2 separate regions of the Homo sapiens genome follow, and region 1 is linked to region 2. Evidence: fine-mapped expression QTL. A gene starts in region 2. The other region holds a variant in brackets. All regions are shown on one strand. Distances are from middle to middle.

The links. PIP is the estimated chance that this variant, and not a neighbour inherited with it, causes the effect.
Region 1: its variant is fine-mapped to the expression of PRKAR1A in atrial appendage (GTEx, PIP 0.99).

The regions. Positions count from the first base shown.
Region 1 is chr17:68,467,161-68,472,539 of GRCh38, reverse strand. It overlaps a transcript of PRKAR1A not described here. Among named protein-coding and RNA genes, the nearest start is that of WIPI1, 12 kb to the right of the region's middle. The variant G/A (reference allele first, on the strand shown) is at 3,101.
Region 2 is chr17:68,509,603-68,514,932 of GRCh38, reverse strand. PRKAR1A (protein kinase cAMP-dependent type I regulatory subunit alpha) reads right to left here and starts at 2,503. Exons shown (of 11, transcript NM_002734.5): 1 at 2,385-2,503. RefSeq lists silencers at 2,033-2,542, 2,963-3,322 and enhancers at 2,613-2,702, 2,456-3,029.

The DNA.
Region 1 (5,379 bases), 42 kb after region 2:
CTTTATGTTTTAGTGTCTTTAACAGCAGTTTCTCCTGTTTTTTGGACAGGAAACCCTACGTTTCCATTTTGCACTGGGGTCTGCAAGTTAAGTCACTGGCCCTGATTGGAAACTTGGTAGTGCAGTGAAGACTCACACGCCCGGAGCAGGAAAGTTCCTGGGAGTTCCACCTGTGTCCCCCAGAACATGGAGGGGTGAGGAAATGGTAGTGTGGGGAGGACTTCTCCACCCATGGCAAGGTGAGGGTCTGAGAGCTTCGAGAGTCATAGAGGCTGGGGGAGTTAGCAAGGCTGGAGCCATCCTGAATGGCCTTACTTGCCACCTGCCTGGGCCACAGAAGAAAGGGGTTGTGTGGGTGGGGCACTGGGGAAGGAGCTGAGCACAAGAAGACAGCTGAACCACACCTCCTCACTCCTATTAGAAACTAGGCAGTGCAGGCTGGGCGCGGTGGCTCAGGCCTGTCATACCAGCACATTGGGAGGCCCAGGCGGGCGGATTGCTTGAGGCCAGGAGTTCAAGACCAGTCTGGCCAACATGGTAAAACCCCCGTCTCTACTAAAAATACAAAAACATTAGCCAGGCGTGGTGGCGGGTGCCTGTAATCCCAGCTACTCGGGAGGCTGAGGCAGGAGAATGGCTTGAACCTGGGAGGCAGAGTTTGCAGTGAGCCGAGATCGCGCCACTGCACTCCAGCCTGGGCAACAAAGCAAGACTCTGTCTAAAAAAAAAAGAAAAGAAACTAGGCCATTCAGAAGGTCTCACGGGAGTCCTCTGAATAACCCCACAAGTGGGGGGCCTCTGAGACAGTCAGGCATTTGCAGACATTTGGAGAGCTCCCCTAGTAGAAAAGCATTAGGCAAGAAAGTACTACAGGGACATCCCTGGCGAAGACCTCCCCCCTCTCCCAGTAATCCCCTCTCATGGCCCCAACTCAGGCAGAGAGAGAGACGGAACGGAAAGGAGGAGGTGGGAAAAGAATAGAGGGGCTTAGCCATTTTGAATTGGCTGTGAGAGTGATGTTTTGATGTTACACATGGCTGGATGGTTCTGCTCTCTGAAAAGTTAGGGTTTCTGTCCATACCACACATCAAGGTCTATGTCTGGGGGAGGAGGAGATTATGGTTACAGAAAAATAAGCTGCCTCCTGCTTGTCCCTCTACTGAATTCACAAAAGCAACCAGTTACCAGTGCATATTCATATATACATTTTAAATACAAATGACAGCATACTGTAGAACTTGAGCCACCTTATTTTTTCCCATCTTAGAGATAGTTCTATTTCAGTACCAATAGAGCTGCTTTGTTCTTTTTAATGACTGCATAGTATTGCATCCACAAGTGTGTCGCAATTAATGCAACCACCCTGTCCCCTACTGATGGACATTTAGTTGTCTTTCAGTTTTCTGCTGTGGGTGTATTACTTTTCAAATCTGGGGGAAAAAATGCATTGAATTTTTAAATTTACACATCACTAGAAGAAAAAAAGGAGTTAGTTTTTTTATTCATTTATACAAAACAATAAGGCTAATGTGTACAGTGAACTCTTCATTGTTTCTGAGTTTTTCCCTCCCATTTTGTGGTAATCTAGAATTTGATGGTCAAAAAGGCCATGCTTTTGGAAGAAAAGAGATTTGGGGGTGGCAGTCACCTCTCTATTACTTATTAGCTTGGCAATCTTTCATACATTATTTTGGTTTTCTGAGCCTCCATTTCTTTGTCTATGAAATGAAGCTGATAATTCCTGCCTGGAAATGTTGATATAATAATAGAGATAATCTTTGGAAAATATAGAGCACACAGTGCATGCTTCACAAAGGCACATGTTTTTATTGTTTTTTTGTTTGTATGTGGATGTGTCTGTATAAAAGCAACGAATTATTAACCTTTGGTTTGTTTTTCCATCACCCCTTCCTCACTATGTATCTTGGCCACCTTTGGCAGATTTGAGGAATGCAAATGTATTTTAATATTAAGCTAAGCAAAGGATATCGAAGAGAAAAGTAGTGTTTAAAGATAATGTAGTTCAAAGACAAAGAAAAATATTCCTCTCCACTAATATCAATCTTTGGTTCTCAATGTGCTTCAGCAATCCCTGGGTTTACCCAAGACTCTCTTGGGGCATCTATGAAGTCAAAACTATTTACAAAATAATCTAAGATGGGCCGGGCACGGTGGCTCATGCTTGTAATCCCAGCACTTTGGGAGGCCAAGGCGGGTGGATCACGCAGTCAGGAGTTTCAGACCAGCCTGACCAATGTGGTGAAACCCTGCCTCTACTAAAAATACAAAAATTAGTCAGGTGCGGTGGCACGCTCCTGTAATCCCAGCTATTAGGAGGCTGAAGCAGGAGAATCACTTGAACCTGGGAGATGGAGGTTGCAGTGAGCCGAGGTCACGCAACTGCACTCCAGCCTGAGTGACAGAGTGAGACTCTGTCTCAAAAAAAAAAAAAAAATCTAAGATGTTATTCGCCTTTTTTACTCACATTCTCTCACAAGTGCACAGAGGGGTTTTTCAAAGGCTACATGATGTTGTGATATGATACGTTGAATACAGAAGCAGATATAAGAATTCAGCTGTCTTCTATTATACCAGACATGAAAGAGATATGCAAAAACAAAAAACGATGCCTCTGTTCTCCCTGTGTTTTGTATGTTTGGGGGTATAAAAAATAATATTAATGTTAACATATAATGGGTTTATTATTACTTTAATGCATTAATAAATATTTTAAATTCTCAGTTTTAATTTCTATTTCACTAAGTAATGATAGATATAATCCATACAAACAAAAGCTCTTTGGGGTCCTTAATAATTTTTAAGAGTGTAAAGAGCATCCAAAAGCTTGAGAGCCACTAATACAGTTAATTGGCATTTGTCAATAATGCTAGTTAAATCAGGACAACATCCTTACTCAAGAGAGGGAAAAAAAAAAAGGACATTCATGATGGAAAGTTTTGTATGATATTTAAGCAACTGATTCTGTAAGTCAGTCAGCCAACAAACATTTCATGAGCACCTATACATGGGGGCATTGCTCTAGGTGCTAGGAGAAGACAGGAGACCCCATCCTCATGGAACTTTGTTTTAGATGGAGGAG[G/A]CAGATAGTAAACATGTAAACCAAGAAATCAACAAGATAATTTCAGTTTTGATAACTGTTTTGGGAGAAATACACAGGCTAATGTGATTAAAAGAAAAAAAAGCTCCTGGGGGTAGAAGAAATTGAGCTATGTGGTTGTGGGAAATTTTACACTTCAAAAGGACTTAACAATCTATACTATGTTCATGGATTGGAAGAACAGGAGAGAAAAAAAAAAGCAGCCTACCTTGAAAATAGACAGTGCCTAAAATGGTGCAAAATGAGTGATTCCTGTTTTGGTGTGGGATAAATCTCTTTTTTTAAAAAAATGACTCTCTCAATTTTCCCTGGGAGTCACTGAAGCAGGACTCTTTCAACTGCTCAGGAGAAAGAGATCCCATCAGGAATGCCAGCGGAAGTGGGTGTTGATGTTCCCTGGGATGAAAGTCAGAGGCATATGGAGCATTCCAGAGTATAAGGTCAGACAAGGGTCACCTATAGATAGAGGCTGACTTAAGCCCCCATCTGTGGAACAGATCCCTGGAGAGGAAGTGGAGAGAGAAGAGCTGAGAGCCTAGGAATGGGCCACTTTAAATATTTTGAGATATGTCTTGTCTGCTTGATGTTTTTCCTAACAGCATGTAAATAGTCTCTGGAACTGACCTTTCATGAAAAATTAGAAACCCACCAAAGGACATTTCTAACCTCAGAGAAATAATGAAAGGTCCAATCTGTACCCTCTTTAGATATTCAGCAGTGAAAACATTCAGTCATGTTTTTGGAAAGCAAGCCAGCTTTTTATTCCTCGTGCGTATTTGCAATCAATAAGGAAAATAGGAGATCATGGACATAATAGGTACCAAAATAAACTGGTGCATTCAGCTTTAGCCAATGAGCATTTGCCAGTTCACATTTCCATTTATAACAGAGGTTCTCACTCATCAGCAATGTGTGGTTTAGAGCTGCTGCAGCCGACTCAGCTCACAAGCTAGCCTCTTTTCTGATAGTGTTCCTAAAATTAAAGGAATACTCAAAACGTCAAACCAGGACATTTCGTTCCAGTTCTTTACCAACTGACACATTTTCCATTACAGCCTGCCTCCTCTCACAGCTTCAGCTACTACATCTTCCCCCAATGACTCCTAGATCTCTCTCCCAATCTCACATATCTACCCTTAGCCCCAGATGCAGATATCAAATACCTCCTAGACATGCCCTCTTTGATGTCACACAGGGTTTTCCTTACAGCCAAAGGGACCAAAGTTTCTGGTCCTCAGTGTTTATTTTTCTGTATCATCTGCATGATTGGCCCCACTCTCCATCCTAACAAGGACCTCCATCACAGCCTGGGTGACATGGCAAAACATCATCTCTCTAAAAAAAATGTATATCTATAAATTAGTTGGGCATGGTAGTATGTGCCTGTGGTCCCAGCTACTTGTGGAGGCTGAGGTGGGAGGGTCAGTTGAGCCTGGGAAGTCAATGCTGCAGTGAGCCATGATGGCACCACTGCACTCCAGCCTGGGTGACAGAGCAAGATCGTGTCTCCAAAACAAATGAACAAACAAAAACAAACAAACAACAACAACAACAACCCCTGCATAATAGAGATCCCCGGCCGAAGCTAAGCAGCTAAGTTTGGAAGCAATCATATCCCAGTGTACCTAAAGAGCTGGTGGTATATCAAGAGATTTTAGCTAGGAGAATGAAAGATAAGATTGGAAAGAACAGGCCAGGAAGGAAAGCCTGGGATCTGCTTCAGATATCGAGTTCTTGAACTCCCATTTGAGCTTCATAAAGAGAGAGCTCTGTGTTGAAACTTATTGTCCAGGTGTCAAGAGTGTGACCCAGAATGAGCACAGGGATCTTGAGAGTACAGTAGGGCTTTGACTCAGTGAGAATGCTGGGGCATCGAGCACTGGTTAGATGTCCCAAGGGTTTGCAGTTTGCAGGCATCTCATAAAACTTTAGTGTTCATGACACCCACAAGGATGGCTATAGTAATTCGGAAAACAAAAACAAAAAAACAGAAAATAACAAGTGTTGGCAAGGATATGGAGAAACTGGAGTCCCTGTATGCTGCTATAGGAATGTAAAATGGTTCAGCTGCTATGAAAAACAGTTTTGCAGTTCCTCAAAAAGTTAAACATAGAATTACCAGGTGACCCAGCAATTCCACTCCTAGGAGTTCAGAGTGTTCTCAAGAGAATTGAAAACACGTACCAAATAAGTACATGTATGCACATGTTCATGATATTCACAATAGCCAAAAGATGGGAACAACCCAAATGTCCCTCAGC
Region 2 (5,330 bases):
AACTTCTATCCCATGGGAGTATCCTAACGTCACAGAGCAAACCACTGGAGTGAGGATCTGATTAGCCAACTACTAGCATAATCAAAATTTTTAAAAACACACAAGAAAATTAGATGAGTTTTAAAAGCAACCTTTATTCCAGACTCGTTTGCCAGATTCCACCCCTAAATGATAATACACTAGTGGTAAAAGAAGGAAAATCCTTAGTTGGGGGAGGGGAGAATTCTTACCACATAAACTGTAAAACATTTGGACAGAAAATTGTCAAAATATTTTCTTCATCTTGACAGGAGAATGTTAAAACACTTAAGTTTCAAACTTGCATGAAGATTCAATAGATAAATTGCATTTAATGGATTACATTTAATGGATAAATTGCATTTAATGGATTTTAGAGGATTCGAATTATGGTACCTTTATGTAAAGTAAAGCAAACAGAGATAATGATGAGCAGCTAACCTTACCCTAGAATTAAAAGTTTACTAATTTAACAACAGGGTCATATACTGTTTTCCTTCCAACTCCTAATTACTAAGCACTTAAGAGTAGAAGACAAGAGTGTGGTCCCCTCCACTCAGCAACTGAATTCAATACTAATCAGACTTTTCCAATTATAATGCATTGTAAACTATTGAGATGAAACTGTAAATTTAAAAGAACTTATAGAAAGAATTAACAGAGTAAAGAGCTATTCTAAAGTGCTACACTGTTACTCATTTTGTTTTGACAACTTTCACCATAAAGGTCAACAACAAGTAGACTAATTAACAGACCATTAGAAAGTTCGTGGCTCCAAGACAAGCACATAAATTAGAAGCCATGGAAAAATAATCATGCTGCTACTTTAAACAGGCAAAACAAAAACAAAAACGCGCATTTACTTTAGGATAGATTTATACAAGCCACTTCTCCAGGTCAGGCAATCATATGAACTGAAGATCCACTTCAGTAGAATTGTCTGCATTTCAAATAATACTTAAAGGCCACCAAGAACAATCATAAATCAGATCTTTCATGCTTCAAAGCATTGTCATATTTTAAGAACATTCAAATGATCAATCATTCTAAGATCAGGTCTTTGGCTGGTAGAGATGAGAGAACTGGGCCTAAGGAGTGAAACTGTGTTTTTGTTTGAAACAACTAATGTATTACGAAAACCAAAAAGATAGCCACCGGTAATAGGACAGTATACGAACAGAAATGTACCAAAATTAATGCAGTCACCATGTAAATCCCTGAATAACCAGACTTCACAGTCTTAATATTTTTAATCGAGTTACCCGGATTCTCTATGTGTACTTATTTGTAAAGCCCAACAACCTAGCCTTCCCTCCCCACACACAATTATTTAACTGCTTTAAAACTTTCGCTGCATTGTCTCTATGTAAAACAAAACACTCAGATTCATTCTTTTGAAAATTCAGTTGTGACAAAATTGTTTCGAAAGGATTACATTCTGGGAAATAAATAAAAACACTTTGAGAAACTGTTCCTGATTCAGACCGCACCCCCTTAGACCAGCCAAGTTACGGCTCCCCTAGGGTCATCTTGAGTAAGTGTTTGCTTTCCTCGCTCTGCTAAAAAGACGGATCTCTTGGGAATCTCTCAAGGAGTAGGACGGTCGTCACCACAGGCTCTGAGCTGAAGAGGTTAATAGGTACCGTGTATTTTCTAGAAGAAGGGCAGGAAAATGCCCTTCACTTCACGTAGGCCACGGTCATGACCACAAAATGAAGGGAAGCCGAGACTTCAAGCTACGCCAGTCGGAAGGCCACAGTGGTGGCGAGGAGGCCTCAGGGGGGCAAAATTGGGAAAGGGAGAGAGGTGAAAGGGGACAAGAGGAAATTCAGGAGCCCGACTAAGACCGTCGTGTTGGGGGAAAGATCACTCCGCTATGAAGAGGAAAGGCTACTGCTAGCAATGACGAGTCGTCAAAAGTGGAGAGGAAAACTACCGGCTTACAAGAAGAGCCAGGACCGGCGGACGAGACGATGGCGGACCCCAGTAAAATAGAGCCGTTGTCCTTCAGGAAATGGGGGAGGGTGAGCGAAGAGGCCGCGGCGCGCGGGGGCGAAGGCGGCCGGGGAGGGCCGCGGAGGGCCCAGGGCCCCAGGAGCCGTGGGGTGGGGGCAGCGAGCGCGAGCGGGGCGGCTGGGGAGCCCCGCACCAAAGCCAACGCCCAGACGGCCTTGAGGATGCAGACTCGGAGCCGGGGGCGTGAGGCCTGCGGGGAGGCGCCCGCCGGGCCGGGGAGGGGCAGGGGGTGCGGCCGTCCCCCTGCAGGTCGCTCCCCGTGACGCCATCTTGGATCGGTCCAGCTCCCGCAAACCGGCTGCGAAGCGACGAAGCTCACCTCGCCTGAGCCCCCGGCCGACCCCACTCACCTGGGGACGGGCGGCGGCGGGCGCGAGGCTGCGGGTGCGAGGCGGCGGCGTACCGAGCTCCCTCAGCGCTTTGCTCCCAGCCCCGCTCCACTCTGCGATAGCGGCTAGGCGACAGCTCCACCGGAAACGGCCTGGCCGCAGCCAATCAGCGTTCGGCTACTGACGTCAATGCGCCTCGCTCTGGCCAGAACCGTCGCCTTAGCAACCTTAAGGGCGCAACAGCCCCAGTTCCTCCCCCCTGGTCGCTCTTGGAAGGACCCTCACTCTGCGGTCGTTCGTCTTCCGCCATTCTTTCCATCTTACTCGTCCCTTATCCACAGCAGTTTCCTCACGCCCGCCACTTCTCCTTTCCGCAGTCTCCCTAGCCCGGTTCTCTCCTCCTTCCTGCTCACCTGCCCCTCCTTACCTGTCCCTCTCTGGGTGTCTTGGGTCGCCTTTGTTCCTCCGCCTGCTCTTCGCTCTCTCTCCGCGCAGCTATCGTGCGCTTCCCTCTCGTCCCTCCGCTCCTCTGTCCACCCCACTCTCCCTCCGGCCTCCCTTGACGCCTCTGCCTTTTCTCCCTCCTTTCCACCCCCTCCCTGGCCGACCCACGTGGGGCGTCTCAGATGACAGGTGGGCGACTCCTCCCCGCAGCCCCTGCAAGGGAGGGCCCCGGGCCGGGGCGGGGAGAGTCCTGTCGCTGCCAGCCCCCGGAGGAGGTGGCGGCCCCCGCGGATCTGCAGCAGCTGCGCTGCGGGGCCGAGCGCGGGCGGATGGCCGGGATGCGCTCTCCGGGCCGCGCATCCTGTGCCCGGCCAGCGCCGCCCGGGCCCCGGGCTCAGGTCAGTCATCCGGTCCAGGAAACCTGAGCCCTGCCGAGTCTCCGCTGGGGCCGCTCTCCCCCGCCGGGGGTGCTGTCGTCTGTGCAGGCAACACCGTCCCTGTGGAAACCAGGCACGGGAAAGGACTTTGTCAGGGTCCAAGAGGAGGCCTGAGTCCTTCTAGAACCTGAAGTGCCCCCCCATCACTCCTGACCTCACAGAGGGAGAAGTGCAGAGCGTGCAGATTGTCAAAAATGCCCTGTGACCCAACAAGAAATCGCAGCTGTCCAGACAAGCTGCACTAATGGGGAAAATTCGGAGGAAAAGCGACTTTACTCTTTCAGCCATTTTTTTTTTCCATCAGAGTATCTGTCTAAGGAGGAAGAAAAGGGAGACGGTACAATTTTAGACACATCAAGTCTGTAACTCAATAAAGAAGGCCCATCAAGGAAACATGTCCAAGTGTCTGGCTAGGGGCTGCTTTAGTAGCATTGTATATATTTCTAGGGCCGTGTGCTTAAAATTCATAATGGATTCAACACAATACAAAAAAGCAAAATACACACATATGCAAGTGTCCAGGAGCTGTTGTAGTAACATTGTATATACTTCAAGGGCTGTATGTTTAAAGTAAATCATGAACTCAACACAATACAAAAAAGTAGCTCAATAGTGTTTATATTGATTCCAGATTGAAATGATAATATTTTTGATATATTAGGTAAAATATTAAAGTTAATTTCACTTTTGTTTTTTAATTCTTAGTGTAGCTATTAAAAAGTTTAAAGTTACACAGATGGCTCCCATTATATTCCTATTGGGCAGCGCTGCCCTCGGAGGCCGACTGCTCCCCCAAATCCACCAGGCTCTAAGGGTACTGTCCATCAGATGATTTATTTAGTTATGTTATTCACTGCCTTCTGATAGGGATACATAGGCGATATCAAAAGGGCAATCAGGCTTACAGGGGGGAATGGAAAAGGGAAGTTTCTCCTTTCACTGACTCCCCAAATGTTGACCATTGGCCCTTCTCCAGGGTTGATCAGAAATGGGGATAAAAGAGCCTCAGTCAGATAGGATTTCACTCTTGACAGTACAAAGAAGGGTTGATAAACTGAACCCTACGCTGGCAAGCAGCAGAGGGAATTTGATAGCATTGAGCAGGCCCGGTCATGTTATGGGAAGAAAATATTGCAGTCAGGTAAATCTGAGTTTGGTTTCAGGCTCTGCCATGTCCGGTAATTGACTTAATCTCCATGGGTGTCCGTTTCCTCGGTCATAAAAGGATGAACAGGACTTTGTTGAAGTTAACTACTAAGGGTATAACAGCAAACACACGTATAGCACTTACTGTGTTCCAAGCACTGATCTAAGGGCTTTACACATAATTAATTTAATCCTCATAGTAACTCTTAACATAGGTAATATTGTTATTGTTACAGAAAAAAACATGAGACATGGAGAAGTTAAGTGACTTGCCCATGGCCACACAGCTAACATGGCTTAAACCCAGGCAGTGATCTTAATCACTCTCCATTGCAGAATAGATAGATCTCTCTCTCTCTCTCTCTCTCTCTCTCTCTCTCTCTGTCTACATATATATATATGGTGTTCAGTACAGTGGGGGATATATTAAATGAATGTTAATTTACTTCCCATTTCTCCCTCTTCCTGCAGAGCTACCCAAACTACAAGGTTAAGTCAGAGTGACACTATGTCCCACCATTAGTGTTACCTTCCAAGTGCAGTTAAGACACTAAGAATAAGGAAACAAGCAAGCTGCTGACATTGAGCTGAGCACTTTGAGTGACAGCTGCTTCCTTGCTGAGTCCTGGCTGTGTGTCCCCATTCAGCTGCATGCAGGCGCCAGTCCAGCCACGGGCCATTTCCTGTGTCAGTCACACTCAACCTTGTTCTAGGTGCCAAATCCTCATATGCTGGGGCTTTAGGAGACATAAAGGGAAATGGGCAGTAGACAGTTGAGCCCGGGGAAAGTTCAGTGAGACAGCTGTTCTGAAAAACTAAATAGCCTCAGTGCTTTCCAAATGGTGCAAATGTTCTTTCAGTGCCACTGTGCCACTGTGAGAATACCAACTTGTTGGTATTCGTAAATTATGTTTCAGAAATGACATTTGTTCCACTGTAG